Linked DNA regions of Homo sapiens. The protein of the gene in region 2 purifies or fractionates together with the protein of the main gene of each other region. This does not show direct contact. Each region holds a gene or a part of one and is shown on either strand. Other genes may lie near its edges. The genes, in order: MFGE8, CLEC12B and TMEM192.

Region 1 (6,234 bases), on a different chromosome or scaffold from region 2:
CAGCCCTGTGGCCCCACCTCCTGCTGCTCAGAGGCGGCCCCACCTCCTGCTGCTCAGAGGCGGCCCCACCTCCTGCTGCTCAGATGCACCCCCTGCCTGCAGAACACAGCCGGCTCCCAAAGTTTGGAAAAATTCACCTTGACAAAGAGGGTGGTTTTTCCTACACCCCTTCCCAAGCTAGCCAAGCCTCTGCCTGCAAGTCACCCTTCCAGATCACCAAGACACTGGCCCGCAAGGCCCACCCCCACTTCTTGATGACCCCCACACAGGGGAGGGCAGAGAGGGTATCCCTGGAGCACACACGCCAGTGGCCTACCAGGAACCAGTGTGTTCAGGCAGGAGGCCTCATGCCCACTTGGCAGAGCCCCGGCCCCCTCCTCCAGTCCCACGCTGCACCCACCCCAGGAACTCCCGCAGTTCGGAAGGCATCCAGGTTCACTGAGTTTCTTATAGTTTCTCCAGCCCACCACTCCAGTTGCAGAGAGAATGGAAACTGCTGAAGGGGAAAACCAGCTGCCCCAGCCAGTCTTCCTGGCAGGAAGGGAGCAAAAGCATTCAGGAGACAGTGTCTGCCAGCACTCGCTGGGCCCCTGACCAGGCAGCAGTTGTAGGGCTCAGGGCCAGACGGCATGGAGGTAGAAAGCAGAGGGAAGAGGGGAAGTCAGGTTTTGAGGACCTGGAAGTCCTGACTTCCTTCAGGCCGCCCTGGACCAAAGTCTCCAGCCTCCTGCTATGAAGCTATGTGTAGTCAGGCAGGTGACATAAAGAAAGATGGGGCTGGGCACGGTGGCTCACGCCTGTAATCCCAGCACTTTGGGAGGCCGAGGCAGGTGGATCACAAGGTCAAGAGATTGAGACAATCCTGGCCAACACGGTGAAACCCTGTCTCTACTAAAAATATAAAACTTAGCTGGGCATGGTGGTGTGCACCTATAGTCCCAGCTACTTGGGAGGCTGAGGTAGGAGAAATGCTTGAACCCAGGAGGCAGAGATTGCAATGAGCCGAGATCACACCACTGCACTCCAGCCTGGCGACAGAGCAAGACTCCATCTCAAAAAAAAAAAAAAAAAAGCAAGCAAGCAAGCTGGGGCTCAGGGAGGACCACAGGTGGGGGATGGGGAAACCAGCGCAATTTAAATCCCATTCCCATGAAACAATAACGAACCACACCAAGAGTTCCCGTGAAGAAGATAAATATATTTTGGAAGCTGCCTGTGTCCTCTGGGGTGAAAAGCCAGCATAGAGGGCCCCAAACGCCCACCCTGCCAACCCATGCCCTCCTCTGACCTCGCTCCCTTTCTCCCCATAGACCCGCCCCACCCCCTTCTGTGTCGCTGGGCTTCAGGACAAGGGGCAAGAGAGGCAACCAGGGAGACAAGGGGAAGTGTCTTGGGGACAGGGGGCCACAGCAGTTGTGGCCACATGGTACCCCAGGGCCGACGCAGGGCCGACGGGCAAGAGGCTGTTATCTCCAGCCTGGCGCTTCCGGGCCTTTCTTGAGGCCACCATGGGAATGTGATGTGTGAGAGAGGGGCTAGGAGAGACAGAGACACACGCACCTGGGATCGGCGGTCCGGACAGGGGCAGGGAAACCACACGCCCTACTTTGCCCTTTCCTGTCCATCCCAGACCTACTCAGATCCCTCAGTGCCTAAGAAAACAGGACAGTGAGGACTGGGGGTTAGGGGACGGGGCTTAGGGGCTGGGGCAGGGCCCGTGAGAGGTGGAGGGTGGGAAAGAGGGAGGGAGGGGTGACTGTGTGGTGGTGCTGCCTCTGAACACCCTCCCCTTCCCCAGTCCCCAGCCCTATGGTGATTTAAAGGGGCTGAGAAGCCAAGAGGCAGCGGGCCCATGGAAAGCAGGAAGACCTGGGGGTGGCAGGTGGCCACTAACAGCCCAGCAGCTCCAGGCGCAGGGCGATGCGGTTGTGCCAGGCTACAGGCAGGATGCGCACATAGCGAGCCAGGATGGGCGTCTCAAACAAGTTCTTCTTGTGGGAGTGGTTGTCCCAGTTGCCAGGGAAGATCTAGAGGCAGAGCGGGTGTCAGGAGGACCCCGAGCCAGCCCCCCTCCCCTCAGAGCCCCAGGCCAGACTCCCAGGGAAGTAATGAAGGAATGGCAAAGGGTGGGCAGCTGGACAGACACCCACCTTACTGCTGCCAGTCCTGGGGTCCTGGTACTCAGTCCAGTTCGCACTGTCATTACTGTAGGCAACCTTGTAGGATGCCACAAACTGGACAGAGCCAAAGTTACGGGCCCCCTGGGTGATGATGCCTGTCACCTCCTTCGAGGAGCCCAGGTCCACCTACAGAAGAAACCAACCACATTTTCTCTGCTTGGACCATCTCCAGTAAGGTGAAAAGAGGCAGACACACTGAGGCATGAATTCTAGTTTTGAAAAAAACTACTTGGGTGAGCCTCAGTTTCTTTGGCTATAAAATGGGCATAAGGCCGGACATGGTGTCTCATGCCTATAATCCCAACACTTTGGGAGAGACTTGAGGCAGGTGGATCACCTGAGGTCAGGAGTTCGAGACCAGCCTGACCAACATGGTGAAACCCCGTCTCTACTAAAAATACAAAAAATTAGCTGGGCATGATGGTGGCTGCCTGTAATCCCAGCTACTAGGGAGGCTGAGTCAGAAGAACCGCTTGAACCTGGGAGGCGGAGGTTGCGGTGAGCCGAGATGGCGCCACTGCACTCCAGCCTGGGTGACAGAGCAAGGCTCTGTCTCAGAAAAAAAAAAAAAAAAAGCGGTGAGGGGGCATAAATAATACCACCTACTTTGCCACACATGGTGTTCGGTACCTCACTGCTATAAAGCTCATAGGGTCTGGGCCCTGGCCAACTCCACGCCAACCACCCCTGCCTGAGACCTGCACTGCACTGTGATGGGAAGAAGGACAGGAGAGGCCACAGCCTGGAGGGGCATGAACTGCTCTAGAGGCTCCCTGCGGCGCCGCCCACAGTCTGACACTGGTCCTGAGGGTGTCCACAGGCAGGCAGCTCCTCAGGGAACCCAGCTCCGCAGTGTGCTCCATGGGGCCCTGAGACAGACCTCCTGTCCCCGGTCCCTGACCTCCCTGGAGAACCTGCCAGCTGCACCTGGACACACAGTTCCCCAACATCCAGGTGTAAACCCAACTCACTGCCAGCCAGCAGGTGGGTACTAGGCAGATCATCGTCCTGCCAGCTCTCGGCTTCCTCATCTATAAAACAAGCTCCGGTTTTCCATGGCTCTCTTTTGTTTCCTAGTTTCAATGACAGACAAGGGCTGTCACATGGTGGCTTCTTAGACACTGAGTCAGAGAATATGTATGCTGTGCTCAAGGGAGAGGTCCCAAGATGCCTGGGTCATGTCTCCCTCTTCCGCCTCCGCCCTGCTGTCTGTCCATAGGCTGAGCCTTGTCAATCCTGTGGCAGCCCATGGAATGGCTCTCCCCTTGTGTACACACATACACACACATTCACACACACACATTCACACACACACATTCACACACACACACACATTCTCACACACACATATTCACACACATTCACACATACACATTCACATACACATTCACATACACATTCACACACATTCACAAATACACATTCACACATACACATTCACACACACACATTCACACACACATTCTCACACACACATTCACACACATTCTCACACATTCACACACACATTCACACATTCACACACACACATTCACACATACACATTCACACACACATTCACACGCACGCATTCACACGCACGCATTCACACACACTCACATTCACACACATTCACACACTCACACACACACATTCACACACACACACACATACACACACACACCCTTTCTCCACCTTGGTGGAAGCAGGATCAAGAGAAGGGAGTACAGGTGGGAAGAAGAAAGAAAAGCCGAAGAAAAACAAGGCTTTTCCAGAACTCTTTTGGGGAGCAGAAGAGAAGCCTGGGCTGGAGAGAGGTCAAAGATCTGGCAGTCCCACCTCATCCCACCCAACCCCAGCCCCATATCCCAAGAAGGCTGACCCACCTGCAGCCACTGATCGTTACCGTAGCTCCCCGCAACCCAGGCGTTGAAGTTGCCCTGCTTGTCCAGCCGTGCATAGGAGGGGTTCCAGCTGAAGAGATGCAAGCCCCAGGTCTTGTAGCTGCTGGAGGCCGTGATCTGCTTGTCAGGGATGCTGTTATTCTTCAGGCCCAGGGGATTGGCGCATCCTGCCAGCAAGGTGGGCTGTCATCTGGATCTGGGATCCACAGCTCCCAGGGGCAGGAGCACAAGGCGATGAAGCAGAAAGAACTCTGTGGATCCTGACCAGCCCCTGTCATGCTCTTGGGCAACAGAAAGCAGCTCCATCCGCCTTGCAGGGCCAACTGTGCGACCTTCTCACTGCCGACCCCACCACCTCCTCACCTCAACCAGCCGGGCTCAGCTCCTCACAGATCACCCAAGACCTCCCACTCACCACCCTTCTCCTCTGCACCAGGGAAGGCCCCTGCTCCACCACCTCCTGCCCTCCTTCAATGCCTGACTTTGGAGACACCTCCTCCAAGAAGTCTGCCCTGACTACTTCACTTGGGCAGGATTTCTTCCTCTTCTGGACTCACAGCACTGCCCCCATCGCCTCGGCCTCCCATCCGTCCCATGGCACAGTCACTATCTACTTTAATAACAACCACATTGTTTATTCAGTGCTTACTTCAGTCATTTAACCTGCCACCAAAAAAAAAAAGAAAAAAAAACACTAAATGAAGTAGAAATTAGTAAGCCCATTCTATAGATGAGAAAACTGAAAGACATTAAGCATCATGCTCAAGTCACATACAAACTCCTAATGTCACACTATGACGTCACCTCTACCAGCTACACATCCCAGCTAGATGATGAAGGCCTGCCTAGTGACGACCCAGTGATGAACAGGACAACATCCCTGCCCTCCAGCAGCTGGCAGTTAGAGAAATCAGACAACTCCTGGGGCACAGGAACATCTCTATTTCCATTCCCCAGAAGCCCCCTGACTTAGTGTCTCCCAGAGGGCCTTCGCACACTCAAATGTTCTGGGGATGCTGTCACACAGGCCTGTGAGGGCTGGCCCGGGAAGCTGGCCTTTGTTTCACTCAGCCCTGCCCCAAACACTCAGGAATGTGCCGGGCTGCCTTGCACTTGTATCTGCACCTGCATATGGATAGAACAGTTGGGGATGGGCAAGAGATACAACTCCCAAGAGAATGATGGGGGTGTCTCCCACCTGGAAGAATCCTCACTCCACAAGTGTCTATCCCTCTGGGGAATTGAGGGAGGCAGGAGTGGACGGTGGGACTGGAGAGCCCCCTGCCCTCTGGGAGCCAGCTAAGTTATATCACTGCCCTCCAATACTCTCACCACTCAAGAGTACTGGGAGCCAGCTAAGTTATATCACTGCCCACCTGTACTCTCACCACTCAAGACATTTGCCTCCAGGGTGTGTTGACAATGCCTGCTGATGGTACCATCATCTCCTGATGGTGATGCACCAGGGAACCACCACCTTCCCCCTCAAAGAGAGGCTCCCGGGCTGAGAGCTGGTTGTCCCTTGGCCCCAGAAGAGGAGAGGCCTGAGGCAGGCTAAAACCTGGGCAGCTTTGCAGAGGACACCAATTCTGCACAATGTGCTCAACGCAGACCCCTCTACAGATCATCTGCTTCTAGTGGTTCATACCCTCCTCACTCTCAGCCTCCCCAGGAAGTCAGACAGCCTTTCTGGTAAAATGCAGTTGGAAGGGGCACCAGGGCAGGGACAGGACTGTCAGCTCCAGCACTCTAGGAAGTCCCTTCCTCTCTCTGGCTCTCAGTCTCCCCATCTATAAAATGAGATACTAGGGGAGTAATTCTCACAGATCACCTGGGGATCTTGATATAAAAAAAAAAAGCTTATGTTTCAGCAAGTCTAGGCTGGGGCTTTCAGTCTGTATTTCTTTTTTTTTGTTTTTTTGTTTGTTTGTTTGAGACACAGTCTCGCTCTGTCACCCAGGCTGGAGTGCAGTGGCATGATCTCGGCTCACTGCAACCTCCACCTTCTGACCGGGTTCAGGCAATTATCCTGCCTCAGCCTCCCTAGTAGCTGGGATTACAGGCACCTGCCACCACGCCTGGCTAATTTTTGTATTTTTTTAGTAGAGACGGGGCTTCGCCATGTTGGCCAAGCTGGTCTTGATCTCCTGACCTCAGGTGATCCGCTCGCC
Region 2 (6,707 bases):
ATCAGTATCAAAGGCTAATTTATCATTATTTTCTTCCTATATATAGCTATGGAACTATGTGAAGATAAATGGAAAACTACATCCTTTACCAGTACTCTGAAATCAGCAATTTTGTTCCAGGAAAAATCTTGAACCCTAGATTTACAATATTTAGCATCTAGTGTGCAGGAACACTGACAAACTGTGATTCAGGAAAGGTCTAAATAATTAAAGATAATGGTTCTTCTATTTTGATGTCTTCAAACAGTTTATTAGGACTTTTCTGAGGGAAACAAAATATCAATTGTAAGAGAATATATTTTTATAATAATACCCAGATTACAAAATCAATAACATCAATATTACTAATTTAAATAAATGACAAACACATAAATATTGGCCAGGGGCAGTGGCTCACACCTGTAATCCCAGGATTTTGGGAGGCTGAGGCTGGCAGATAGCTTGAGCCTAGGTGTTTGAGACCAGCCTGGGCAACATGGTGAAACCTCGTCTCTACAAAAAAATACAAAAATTAGCTGAGCATGGTGTTGCATGCCTGTGGTCCCAGGTATTCGGGAGGCTGAGGTGGGAGGGATCGATTGAGCCCAGGAGATTGAGGCTGCAGTGAGCCAATCACATCACAATACTACAGCCTAGGCAACAGAGTGAGACAGTGTCTCAAAAAAAAGTAAATATTAAATTATTATGCCTAGATTATAAATTATCTAAATTTTAAAGATTAATAAGAACGCTTATTTTCATAGGGTTGTTGGAGAAGAAAAGCTATTTTGCAAGTGCAGGGCGACACTTAGCTGGTTCACAGTGGTACAAACATTTGCTAAAATAAAATATTTCCAAATCAGTTGATACAGTGCTGCAGCCCCAGCTACCAGGACCCTTAGCCTGGGATCCCCCAGACCTCCACATGACCCAGCAACTATCACAACAGGCATCTCTTGGACCTTGTTCTAGTGCTGTGGCCTGTGTTTTTAAATATTTAAATATCACCCTAGTTTTTAAATATTTAAATATCACCCTAGTGCACACGTGACAGTATAATAATAATGAAAGAAAGGAGTCTTTATTTGAGAAAGCAAAGAAATTCAGTGAAATGATTCTGAGACAATCATAGGGCCATAGTATGGCTATTCCCCTTTGTCCCCAGGTATAATTTTAAGACCGAATAATAACATCAAATCAGAAGACGTCAGACAAGGAACTGGAGAATGTTCTGTTAAACAAGTTCATTTGTCTGATAATGTAAATACACAGTCATTTTAAAAGCTGGTTTGGCTCTGGTACCGTAGTTTCCTCTTTCCTCATATGAGCTTACTCACAAGTCTCTTACTTCTTGGAGAATTTGGAAGAAGCATACTAATCCAAATCCTCAGTCTTCACTGGGGCAGCTGTCTTCTCGCAAATCCAAAAAATTTCAGCACTACAGCGAGAAATATAAATATTTCCTTTTTGAAAATAAGCACATCCTTTGGATCCATTGATCTGGTCAAGTTCTTTAGTACTAAATCTGAAAATTAATTTAAAATTAATTATAAATTCTGTATTTGAAACGTGATCACTATTTAGTGCCCTCAGTTGCTCTTACAGCCAATGTCATGTATCTGAATATGGAGAGACTTCTGCCTCCACAAAGCTTCAAAATCTGAAGCTGCCTAAAGCTGGCACAAAATCTGCCCAGAGCTGGCACATCTGGGTTCTTTATTTTAAGTTAATCATAATCCCAGGTAGAATTCTTTAAGAGAAATACTTAAATCCTGGACTGAGAATTTGTATTTCCTTCATAAATATGTAATTCCATTAATGAAATCTAATCAGTTCAGCTTATATTAGAAGTACTTGAAGTTCTTTGGGACCTTATGAAGAAAAACATAAAAATAAAATCACATTCTGTTGTAAAAAGTTATCACATTTTATTATGCACAAATATAATTTTTCACATAGTTATACATATGTGGTGGGTAAAAAGAGAACAAGACAGACGTTAAAAGAGGAAATGATTGACTATATAGATATGGTTCTGACAATAGTATTCATTTCCTCTGCTAAGAAATTGATGTTAATCCTGAAATAATGTCTTTAGAAAATTATACTTGTCAGATCTAAATTTTCTTTGTGCCCAACATTGTTTTTTTCTAAATGACCTGCATTACACTGCCATATTCTTTGCTTGCTTCAGGGCTAGGCTTACTAAATCTTAGCCTTGGCCTTTACTCAGTAGTCAAGGAAATGGCTATGCAATCTGGAAGCTCAGTCTCTCTAACCTGTGTTTGACATGCTGGCTTGTCTGACAGCTGCATGTCTCAGGGGCCAGGGTCTGTAGGTTCCAAACCCTGCTGTGGGGGCCACCTCCTCCACACTTTGATTAAGAGTGAGTAGAGAGGCCAAGAATGATTAAAATCCCTTTGGGAGAAGGGACACATCTTAGATTCCAACATGAAAACTGAATGTGTTTACATGATGTCATAGTACTACTCCTGGAAACCCTCAGTCTAGTAGCAACACCTCAGATTAATATTAATCAGTTCATACCCAATATTGCTCTTGTCACAAAAAAGTAACTGTCACTTTTTTTGTTTGTGTATTACTCTGCATGTGCTTTTTGTCATTATTATTAGTGTGAAACCAAACTAATTGACTTGATATGATTAATAATGGTGATTAGAGAATGGGGGATTAGTGTTTGAGTAGAAATAGCCATGACAAAACATTGGGAAATGGATGAAGATAAAGTGTATCCAGGGAGAAAATAATAGACCTACCATTGTTTGTGATTTAAGGAACTGCTGAGTCACAGCTGAAGCATGGCATCTTTGACAGAAGATGAGTGATTATTATTCAGTTTAAGAAAACGTTGACAACATGCTTTAAAGAGTGAAACAGGAGGGAGGGGGGTGGATAATGATTTGTTGGGGGAGGAAGGTAGATAAAAAGCCATTATGAATACAAATATTCTGTTAGATAGAAGAAGTAAGACCTAGTGTTTCATAGATTATTAGGGTGAATACAATTAACAATAATCTACTGTACATTTCACAATAATGAGAAAATAATAATTTGAATGCTCCTAGCATAAAGAAAAGATAAATATTTAAAGTGATCGATATCCCAATTCCACTTATTTGATCTTTACACACTATCTGAATGTATCAAATTATCACATATACCCCAAAACATATACATCTCTTATGTATCAATAAAAAGTTTAAAAATCCATTAAGATGCCAAAGATCTTAAATTTTATCTAATAGAAAAATACTATTATATTTAAAATATTAATACAGTTGTTTCATTTAAATGTAGTTATGATGAGAGGTGTTCCTCAAAATTTTTTGTTTTATAGTCTGTGAAAGAATTTAGCAAACCTAATATCCCCTTACACATTTTTGTTGACGTCTATTTTTTCATAACTTTAAATAGTTAAAAAAATTGAAATTTTCCAAGTGTTATATATTCTATTTGTCCTTTAAATAGTTTCATCCAAACCCTGAAGTGGAAGGTTTAGTTCATTTTAATTCATAAAAGACACTTGCCGTATATTGTAATTGGCAAGTCCTCAACATGACACTAATTGTTGAACTAATCAGTCAATTCAGTCTTACTTTTTGTTAGAAAATGGTTGACAGTTATTTAGTATAAATAAATGTGTTGATATGTGTTCTTATGACCAGCAGCACCCTTTTGGATTGTAGGTGCTGGAGAGTCAGAATAGCTGAGTGACTGAGTGCACAATCCCTAAAGTGCAATTTATGAGCTGAGTGACCTCAGGCAAGTTACTTAATCTCTCTATTATAATATTTCTACCTATAAAATGGGAATATAACTGCTTTCTTCAAGGGTTAGTATTTATAAAATACTTTGAATGTAGTATTAGGTGTGTGTGTGTGTTAAATAAACACATTTCTACCAAAAGATAAAATTCAGTGCCTTGCTATAAATTTGTCACAGAGATGAAATGAACTATACCTCCTTTCAATATTTGTTACTGGAGCTCTTTTCTCAGTATGTTGTACTCCTCTTTTTATGTCTGTATTTATAATTCTCACAATCATTATTAATTTTCCCAGGATTCCATGGAAAGCTTGTGTTTACCCTCAATAGTTAGAGACGTACAAGGATGGAGAGGGAACAGAGCCATCTTCCCAGAACCAACTTCTGCCAGAGGAGTCCCATGATAATCCCAGCCAAAAGAACGAAAACATGAGTAATGGCTGTGACATAAGAAAATCCTAAGAGAGAAAACAGAGAAAAAGTTTTACGTGAGCGCCACATTCCAGTTTGCAGAGTTAAGATAGATGAGGACATTCATTAAATTCATGTATTAATTCTAATTCAAGATGCACTGAATTTCCATCATGTGAATCAGATGTTTTATTTATTTCTCTCTCATTGTATGGATAATGTCTATAACTAGAGAATGAGACTCAATCCTACCTTTTCTTCCAAACTGTCTATCTTCACTAGGGTGGAGTTCTTGTCTATGCAGTCCTTTCTACTGTTAGCCCAGGTTTTCTCCTCATTTGTTGTAAAATAGTAGCAACTATTTTGGTACCATTGCCACATCTTAGGACATGGATTACATCTGTGGTCTGAAAAGGAAATTATACCCAATAATATAAACTGAAGACTCTAGAGTGACTGGAGAAGGCTTTGAAACAAAATCATGTAATTGAACAATAGGGACTGAGAGCCTGCACCCTGAAAGCATACTGCTTTAGAAGCCTCTGAAAAAAAAGTGACCCCTGGTTATGGGTTGGGGCAACAGGGATTCTCTTTTCATGGCTTAGTCTTCTGACCTCAGAATTACCAGCTATGCCTTTAAGCTTTCAGAGCAACATGATCACCTAGAAATAGTTAATAAAATGAGGGGTTGAAGTATCCAGATTGATATCATTCCAAGATACTTCCCAAATTTGCCTGTGGTTTCAAAAATATTAAATGAATTTGTATATTTCCTTGCTGTGTGTAAATTTAGTGCAACATCATTAAGGTTCACTGGATGACATAACTCTCTCAATACTCTTAGGTGGTACATGTGATCAACTTAGACCAGGATAACATATGCCATCTGACTGGTCAGCAGGACTAAGTCTGATTACCTGAAGTATGAATGATTAGCTCTTGGCACAGTTTGATGGCCATTTGTTCCTGCCTCTTCAGTACACTGGAGATCTGTGACTTGAGAAATTCCTCCTCCATGGACAAGTTGTTGGAGTTGCCCAGTTGCTGGGATAAGTTATCCTGCTGCTGTTGGATGGTTTTCTGAAGTTGACTCAATTTCTCTGAATCTGAGTTAATGTCATTAGATATCTGCAAAACTCCAAGACATGACAGGAGACAAGTTCATATATTCTTCTATTCTTATAACTGTAGATAATTCTCGTGACAGAAACATTTCTTAATTGTTCAAGATTTATTAGTAGCTCTTAGTATTTGAGGTATCATGAAAGAAACAAACCAGATGCCTTTCTATTCCAAATTATTTATAGTTCTTTATAATTTTATTTACATTTTTATTATTGCACTATATTAAAATAATGATTTAATAATGATATATTTCTGACATCACATCTAAGGAAGGGCCAGTCATTCTGCCACTCATTTTCATGAAATTGTTTTATTTTTGTTTTATTTTATTTGGAGATAGATGATGTAATTGTTGTTTTAATGAAAACAGCATTCTTTGGGACAATGGATATCTCAAACTCTGCAGATGACCTGAGATGCTTGTTTACCAAAAGAAAAGAAAAAGCAGATCTTAATGGCATATCAGACCATTTCTCGTCATGGGTCCATGAAATATGCCCTTTTCATAAGCATTTAAGGTGCTTCATCAGCACAACAAATTTAAGAACCACTGCACCAAAAGCACTAAATTTTAGAAAAGAAATGTCACCCTTCTATATCGAACCAATGGACGTACGTTATTGCATTTTCACTTAATTTTTAAATATACATTATTGTAGAAGATCGGCTGCTAATCCTCATACTGATTGGCTCCAGAATATCTGTTACTGCTGCTTGAACATCATATTCCTTTTCAAAAGAGCAAGGTACATCATTAGTCTCTTTTTATGTTGGCAAAGATATGTCCAAATCCTAATTAACCATTAAATCCTAAAAAATTATCCATTAAATCATTAAAAAGAAATGAATGTAGCAGAGGAGATGTTAGTATCATTCAGCAAATTAACTTTCTTGACTGTGAGTTCCCTGTAAGCGAATACCATGCCAATTCACTACTCTGTATACCATATACTTAACAACCCTATAAAGTTTGTATTCTCAGGATGTTTTTCTCATTACTCAAGAACTCCCTACCATGTTCATCCCCAACTTCCCGAGGATGGGTCAGAATCAATAGAATGTTCCTTTGTGGCTGTGGTGCTTGAGAGTGGAGCTTCCATTGTCATGTGGAGATGGTTCAACTCTCTTACTTGGTAAGGTGTATCAGGCCACTCTTCCTCTTTGTTTATATGTCTTTCTCATTCATAGAAATCAGGCTGCTGCTGCTACTTGGAAGATTTCTCTCCACTAGAGAAGTTTCATGTAAGCAGACTGAACCTAGTCTAGTGTTAAGTCTTTCAGGTAAATAAAAATAGCAAGCACTTCCTTCAATACATATTTCTTGACTTTATTTCTCAGCATTGGAATGATAAGTGAATGTGTGTCTAGGCAGAAAAGAGGCTCTTTATTCTAATGAATAACTGGAA
Region 3 (8,037 bases), on a different chromosome or scaffold from region 2:
TAGCCGGGCGTGGTGGCGGGCGCCTGTAGTCCCAGCTACTCGGGAGGCTGAGGCAGGAGAATGGCGTGAAACCTGGGAGGTGGAGCTTGCAGTGAGCCGAGATAGCGCCACTGCACTCCAGCCTGGGCGACAGAGTGAGACTCCGTCTCCAAAAAAAAAGAGAACCCTTTCTCCCTTTACCCTTTTCCCTTGAAGACCCTTATTTCAGAGGGGTCCTGCCCTATATGGCAGGAGGGTTGGGGGTGAGGAGTCTACACAGAGAGGCCGAGAAGAACCTGAATAGACAGGTCTTGCTGGGTTTGCCCCTTCAGTCTATTCCCAGTAGATCATACTTTGTCCACTCACATTTCTACATGGCTGTCCATTCTTCATCAAACCTAAGCATAAGAATAGTTTTCTCTGGGTCTTTCATTTCTTTTCCTTTTTTTTTTTTTTTTTTTTTTTTTTGCAGTAGGGTCTTGCTCTGTTGCCCAGGCTGGAGTGCAGTGACACGACCTCAGCTCACTGCAGCCTCAACCTCCCAGGCTCAAGCAATCCTCCCACCTTAGCCTCCCAGGTAGCTGGAACTACAGATGTGTGCCACCATGCCTGGCTAATTTTTTATATTTTTTTATAGAGATGGGGTCTTGCTATGTTGCCTAAGCTGGTCTCGACCACCTGGGCTCAAGCAATCCTCTTGTCTTGACTTCCCAAAATGCTGACATTACAGGTGTGAGCCACTGCACCTGGCCTGGGTCTTCATTTCTGAAGGCTCTGATCACTCAGGAAATTACAAGTGTTTTAGGAGCTCTGTGTAAGGAACCAGACAAAGACCAACTATCTATTGGACAAAGACCATATATGTATTTCTCATCACATGCTGTGTTTTATGTTTCTCCTCCTCAGGCAACACAGTGCTTCTCCTCATACTGTGCATGCAGCACTCCTTCCCAGAGCCTGGCAGATTGTATCTTGACCTCATTCTGGCCATCTTGGCACTGGAACTCATCTGTTCCCTGATATGTCTCCTCATTTACACAGGTGAGAATTACAACGAGCCTGTTCTTATAGGAACTTCGAACTGCTTCCTTTCCTCCCAGTTTAAAGTATAGCCCATTAGCGACAAGGAAGTTCTCTGTGTATCTGAGTGGTGACCACATGCAGACTTCTTTAATTTCAAACCAACAGGAAGGTACAGCCACCACCAGTGAGACCCCATTCTTTTAAGATTGTGTCATTAATAAATTTTTGTTAATGCAAGTGAAACTTTTCCATTAAAACAAGACACAAACTTTTTGGGCTGGGAATGGTGGCTCAAGCCTGTAATCCCAGCTCTTTGGGAGGATGAGGCAGAAGGATCACTTGAGCTCTGGAATTCAAGACCAGCCTGGACAACATGATGAAACTCCATCTCTACAAAAAATACAAAAAATTAGCCAGGTATGGTGGTGCACAAATGTGGTCCCAGCCCCTCAGGAGGCTGACGTGGGAGGATCACTAGAGCCTGGGAGACAGAGGTTGCAGTGAGCCAAGATCACATGCCTGCACTCCAGCCTGGGTGACAGAGTAAGACCCTGTCTCCTAAAACAACAACAACAAAAACATCCACAAACTTTTGCTTCTCTGAAGGCAGCTGAAATGTCAGCTTGCATTTAAAATTAAAAATTAAGAAATAGGCCAGGCACAGTGGCTCATGTCTGTAATCCTAGCACTTTAGGAGGCTAGCACTTTAATAGAGATGGGGTTTCGTCATGTTGGCCAGGATGGTCTCTAACTCCTGACCTCAGGTGATCCGCCCGCCTTGGCCTCCCAAAGTGCTGGGATTACAGGCATGACCCACCGCACCCAGCCCCAAATTGTATATATTCATCTGCTTAATGAAGTTTTCATCCACATGTCCCACAGGCACCAACAAGATCAGAAGTGAACAGAACATAATTTTCTTCAAAATTTCCCTCCATCCTAACCGTCCTCTTCTAGCTCAGTTAACAATACCAGCCTGCATCCACTTGATAAATCAGAATCCTAGAAACGTAGGAGTCATCTACCTTCTTCCTTCTACCTCACTCCCCAAGAACTGGATAGGATTGGTGATCAGTCAGTCATCAGTCTTATTCAGTCTACCTGTCTTTCAGCTCTGTCTCTTTTCTTTGGTCCCTGCCACTGCCTTGGTTAGGTACTCATCATCTCTTGCATGGCTACATCCAGGAGACACATAACAGGTCTCTTTCCCTCTGTCCACTGATTCATATTTCTTATTCCTGCCAACATGATCTTGTTTATACTTAACTCTGATTGTTAACAGCTTCCCTGCCCAGAGTTTTCTAATAGCTGAAGGAAAAAAAATCTAACGTTTTCATGTGGCATAAAAGGCATTTTCTTTATTTTTTTTTTGAGTTGGAGTTTCACTCTCGTCACCCAGGCTGGAGTGCAATGGCGTGATCTCAGCTTACTGCAACCTCCGCCTCCTGGGTTTAAGCGATTCTCCTGCCTCAGCCTCCTGAGTGGCTGGGATTATAGGCGCCTACCACCACACCCAGCTAATTTTTGTGTTTTTAGTAAAGACAGCATCTCATCATGTTCGCCAGGCTGGTCTCAAACTCCGGATGTCAGGTCATCTATCCGCCTCGGCCTCCCAAAGTGCTGGGATTACAGACATGAGCCACCATGCCCAGCCTGAAAGGTTCTCCTTGAATGGCCTCTACCTAGCCTGCTCTTCAGGGATGATGGTGAGATCCTTTCAAAGACTGCCAGTTGCTCTGAGGATAAAATCTAAATGTCTTAGGCCGGGCCTGGTGACTCACGCCTGTAATCCCAGCACTTTGGGAGGCCTCAGCGGGTGGATCACTTGAGGCCAGGAGTTTGAGAACAGCCTGGCCAACATGGTGAAACACCGTCTCTACTGAAAATACAAAAAAAATTAGCTGGGTGTGGTGGTGCACGCCTGTAATCCCAGTCGGGAGGCTGAGGTGGGAGAATTGCTTGAACCTAGGAGGCAGAGACAGAGGTTGCAGTGAGCCAAGGTTGTGCCACTGCACTCCAGCCTGAGCGACAGAGCAAGACTCCGTCTCAAAAAAAAAAAAAAAAAAAGTGTAAATGCCTTGCATGACACACCAGCCACTCCTGATGCATTCTCTGCCTATCTTCCCAACCCACCCCTTGTCCATACACCCTCACACCCATACATACGTGTAGCTTCTCAAGACCATAGCATTTGTTCAGACTCCTCCTGCACCTGAAGCACCCTTCTTTATTCTCCTAGTCTGTGTGATTAATTCCTGGGCTCAAACTCTATCCTCTTTTCCCCTCTCTGATACCTCCTGTTGAGTTAGGCACTGCTTTCCAGGCCAAAAAGCAGCTTGACAACTCCTTGTGCAAGCCTCTTGCACAAGCTTCTATTGAAGGTACTTTCCATACTGTCTTAGAATGTAGGATTATTATCTGTATTTTCCCCTGGACCAGAGGAAGTCATGATTTCTGAATTAGATGGCTGGCTGGTTGCTCAACTTCTCTGGGCTTCACTGCGGGGTAATAGGAGCATCCACTTCATGCAGGTGTTTATGAGAACTGAATGAGGGCATCCATGTAAAACATTTAAACTGTGCCTCATGTGTTCTAAGTGCACAATAAATGTCAGCTATTATTGCTATTTCAATACTAATGTAATCCCTATATTCCCAGGGCTTAGAACAGGCCTGGCACATAGTAGAATTTGAAATACTCAAGGACGTTAATAAGAACGGCAAATTAGCATAATTTGAAAAAATGAAACTAGACTTGTCTTTCAGAATTCGATCTAATAATGACTTTATTATTTTAGTGAAAATCCGGAGATTTAATAAAGCTAAACCAGAGCCTGATATACTTGAAGAAGAAAAAATCTATGCTTACCCCAGCAATATTACCTCGGAGACTGGATTCAGGTAAGATTTAGGTGAGAATAAAATAATTGAGTTTTTTCCCCTAGAAAGCTAGAAACCATTCTGATGCTTGGAATTTATGATTGTGTATTTGTACTTTTACATTTGTTTGATTTGTTTATTTCCTTTCAGCTGTGGTGAAATCAAGTCTAAATCAGGATGTGTAAATGTATTAAATAGGCCATATATTTGATGCAAAAAATTAACCACTTAGCCAACCTATTTAACCTCTCAAGAGCTTTTGACATCATTAACTGGTTACTCCCTCCTTGAAGCACCTTTTTTTATAGGTGTCTTTTTTTTTTTTTTTTTTTTGAGATGGAGTTTTGCTCTTGTTGCCCAGGCTGGAGTGCAGTGGCATGATCTTGGCTCACCGTAGTCTCCACCTCCCAGTTTCAAGCGATTCTCCTGCCTCAGCCTCCCAGTAGCTGGGATTACAGGCATGCACCACCACGCTTGGCTAATTTTGTATTTTTAGTAGAGATGGGGTTTCTCCATGTTGGTCAGGCTGGTCTTGAACTCCTGACCTCAGGTGATCCGCCCGCCTCAGCCTCCCAAAGTGCTGGGATCACAGGCGTGAGCCACCTCGCCCGGCCTGTTATTTTCTTTTTAAGGGATAGAGTCTCTCTGTATTGCCCAGGCTGGCCTCAAACTCCTGGGCTCAAGCAATCCTCCCATTTCAGCCTCCCAAACAGCCAGCCCGGTCTGCCCACCCTTGTTTCTATCCAGTCTCTCCCTAAGTGACTTCCATGGTAATTAAAATATCATTCATATCTGTTGGAGATCTTGGGGCTAAAGTAGATGTAAAAAACTATACATGCCCAGCTAATTTTTGTATTTTTAGTAGCGACAAGGTTTCACCATGTTGGCCAGGCTGGTCTCAAACTCCTGACCTCAAGTGATCCATCCACCTCGGCCTCCCAAAGTGCTGGGATTACAGGCATGATTACACCACTCCTGGCCATGTCTGTGGTTCTTCTCATCCTGCTTTTGGATCTATATAATCTGGGACACGAGTTATTCCTTAACATCATCTGAAGTGGATAGCAACAGACATAAGAATATAGTCAGTATATATAAAGAAAGTGTGGGCCAGGTGGGGCAGCTCACGCCTGTAATCCCAGCACTTTCGGAGGCCGAGGTGGGTAGATCACCTGAGGTCAGGAGTTCAAGACCAGCCTGGCCAACATGATGAAACCCCATCTCTACTAAAAATACAAAAACTAGCCAGGCACAGTGGCGCATACCTGTAATCCCAGCTACTTGAGAGGCTGAGGCAGGAGAATCGCTTGAACCCGGGAGACAGAGGTTGCAGTGAGCCAAGATGGCGCCACTGTACTCCAGCCTGGGCAACAGAGCGAGACTCCATCTCAAACAAAAAAAAGAAAGTGTATTACTTAGGGGCTTAAGAAATGGACTCAGTGCCATTACTGATGTACTAGTTAAAAAAAGAAAAAGAAAAAAACATGACTGGGCGCGGTGGCTCATGCCTGTAATCCTAGCACTTTTAAGAGGCTGAGGTGGGCAGATCACGAGGTCAGGAGTTTGAGTCCAGCCTGACCAATATGGTGAAACCCCATCTCTACTAAATATACAAAAATTAGCTGGGCAAAGTGATGCACACCTGTAGTCCCAGCTACTCAGGAGGCTGAGGCAGGAGAATCGCTTGAACCTGTGAGGCGGAGGTTGCAGTGAGCTAAGATTGCGCCACTGCACTCCAGCCTGGATAACAGAGCAAGACTCTGTCTCGAAACAAAACAACAACAACAAAAAACTTTATAGATAAAGGAAAGAGATACTTTTAAAAACAGTTGTTGAAATAAATATAGTTTAATGTATTGGCTTTTAGTAAGGCCAATTTTTGAATTAGTGTCATTTTTAAATTAGCTTTTATAAACTGAACTGTTGTTAGGCACAGGTGTGAAGTGACAACACAGGTGTGACAGTGTTGAATCAGGATGCACATTGCTTTTTATTATAGTGTGGAATATAAATACTTAATGAATAAAAAGAAAAAAGAACAAAAAACAAAAACAAACACTTAATGAGCAGCAAGTCCAAGGTTGTTCTTCTTGGGATCGTTATCTCTGTCCCACAGTGTAAACTGATGATATCTTGATAGTTCTAGAATCCTTTACCCTCGGTTTCTTGAAGCCTGGATTATACTGTCTATAATTCTCAATACGTACAGAACTATGAAAACGGAGGTGTCTTTAGTGAAATAGATTCTTTCCCCTAGAAAATACAACTTTTTTTTGTCACTTTTCACTTACCATGATCTGCCTTCTTATTTTGTTTACTCTTTTTCTTCATTCTAACCTAAATAGAGGAATAACTTTAGTATCAATTGTTGATTATCTCTTTGTTGACTTTTGGGCTTATTAAATTCAGAGACTGTTCTTCCTGACCTTGACCCTTTTCATATTTCATCTTGTTCCCCCTGAGCACTGAAGAGTTTACCTAATATTGCTCTCTTATGACTTAATGGAAAGCTTTTTAAAATGTATTCCCTTCACCTCATGGGGTTAACTTTGGGGCAATGAAATTCAGTTTATGCCGGACGTGGTGGCTCACGCCTGTAATCCCAGTACTTTGTGAGGCCGAGGCGGGTGCATCACCTGAGGTCAGAAGTTCAGACCAGCCTGGTCAGCATGGTGAAACCCTGTCTCTACTGAGTATACAAAAATTAGCCGGGCGTGGTGGTGCGCACCTGTAATCCCAGCTACTCAGGAGGCTGAGGCAGGAGAATCGCTTGGACCCGGGAGGCAGAGGTTGCAGTGAGCCGAGATCACGCCATTGCACTCCAGCCTGGGCAACGAGAGTGAAACTTTGTTCCAAAAAAAAAAAAATTCAGTTTATATTCCTCTTTTACTTTTAAAATTTGTATGGAATGCTTCTTTGAAAATGCATCTCAGTTTGAAAATTTGAATCAACTTCCAATGAAAGAAGGTAAATCTAGCCACACGTTTATCCCTTCACCCTCCCCAGATCCTTCCAAAAGGATAGTGAAGGATTAAAAAAGACCAACCTACCCACACTAGCAGAAAAACTGGAGGAGAAAGGGACCATCGATGGTTGAGTGATTTCTGAAAATGTGTGGGCTACAGAATACAGATGAAGGAGCGGTAGACAATACCACAGGGCAGAGAGGCTACATTTAGAGGACACGGGGAGAAATAAAGCCAAGGAGGCAGCCACTCTTTTTGTGTAGCCCCAGAGAGACTTGGAACTCAGAAATGAACAGGATGCCCAGGAGTGGAACATAGGGCAGGGAACAGGGATGTTAATTGAAAGTCTACTGTATATAGACGATGTCCAGGTCTGGGTGTGGTGGCTTAGGCCTGTATTCCCAGCACGTTGGGAGGCTGAGGCGGGTGGATCACTTGAGGTCAGGAGTTTAAGACCAGCCTGGTCAACGTGCTGAAACCCCATCTCTACTAAAAATATAAAAATTAGCTGGGTGTGGTGGTGCACGCCTGTAGTCCCAGCTACTCGGGAGGGTGAGGCAGGAGAATCGCGGGAACCCTGGAGGCGGAGGTTGCTGTGAGCCGAGATCATGCCACTGCACTCCAGCCTGGGCAATGGAGTGAGACTCTGTGTTGAAAAAAAAAAAAAAAAAGAAGATGGTCAGTCATGGTGGCTCACGCCTGTAATCCCAGCACTATAGGAGGCCAAGGAGGGTGGATCACTTGAGGTCAGCAGTTTGAGACCAGCCTGGTCAACATGGTGAAACCCCGTCTCTACTAAAAATACAAAAATTAGCCGGGCATGGTGGTACATGCCTGTAATCCTAGAGGCTGAGGCAGAAGAATAGCTTGAACCGGGGAGGCAGAGGTTGCAGTGAGCCGAGATTGCGCCATTGCACTCCAGCCTGGGCCACAGAGCAAGACTCGGTCTCTGCCGGACACGGTGGCTCACGCCTGTAATCCCAGCACTTTGGGAGGCCGAGGCGGGTGGATCATGGGGTCAGGATATCGAGACCATCCTGGCTAATATGGTGAAACCCCATCTCTACTGAAAAATACAAAAAAAAAAAAATTAGCCGGGCGTGATGATGGGCGCTTATAGTCCCAGCTACTCAGGAGGCTGAGGCAGGAGAATGGCATGAACCCATGAGGCGGAGTTTGCAGTGAGCTGA

The links.
Region 1: the proteins of CLEC12B (region 2) and MFGE8 purify together in Homo sapiens (co-immunoprecipitation; 2 studies listed by BioGRID and IntAct, with this or other methods). This does not show direct contact.
Region 3: the proteins of CLEC12B (region 2) and TMEM192 purify together in Homo sapiens (co-immunoprecipitation; 2 studies listed by BioGRID and IntAct, with this or other methods). This does not show direct contact.

What each region holds. Positions count from the first base shown.
Region 1 is NC_000015.10:88,897,506-88,903,739, forward strand, and holds the end of MFGE8 (lactadherin isoform a preproprotein), read right to left. Parts: exon of another isoform or gene 4,678-6,234; intron 4,231-4,677; coding exon 4,046-4,230; intron 3,254-4,045; exon of another isoform or gene 3,152-3,253; intron 2,307-3,151; coding exon 2,151-2,306; intron 2,028-2,150; coding exon 1,890-2,027; 3' UTR 1,178-1,889; downstream 1-1,177.
Region 2 is NC_000012.12:10,013,128-10,019,834, reverse strand, and holds the end of CLEC12B (C-type lectin domain family 12 member B), read right to left. Parts: intron 6,031-6,707; exon of another isoform or gene 5,313-6,030; coding exon 5,094-5,312; intron 4,950-5,093; exon of another isoform or gene 4,584-4,949; coding exon 4,429-4,583; exon of another isoform or gene 4,224-4,428; coding exon 4,108-4,223; coding exon of another isoform or gene 4,089-4,107; exon of another isoform or gene 1,886-4,088; intron 1,505-1,885; coding exon 1,354-1,504; 3' UTR 1,039-1,353; downstream 1-1,038. UniProt on the Homo sapiens protein: Inhibitory receptor postulated to negatively regulate immune and non-immune functions. Upon phosphorylation, recruits SH2 domain-containing PTPN6 and PTPN11 phosphatases to its ITIM motif and antagonizes activation signals.
Region 3 is NC_000004.12:165,081,451-165,089,487, reverse strand, and holds part of TMEM192 (transmembrane protein 192), read left to right. Parts: intron 1-885; coding exon 886-1,020; intron 1,021-3,799; coding exon 3,800-3,902; intron 3,903-8,037.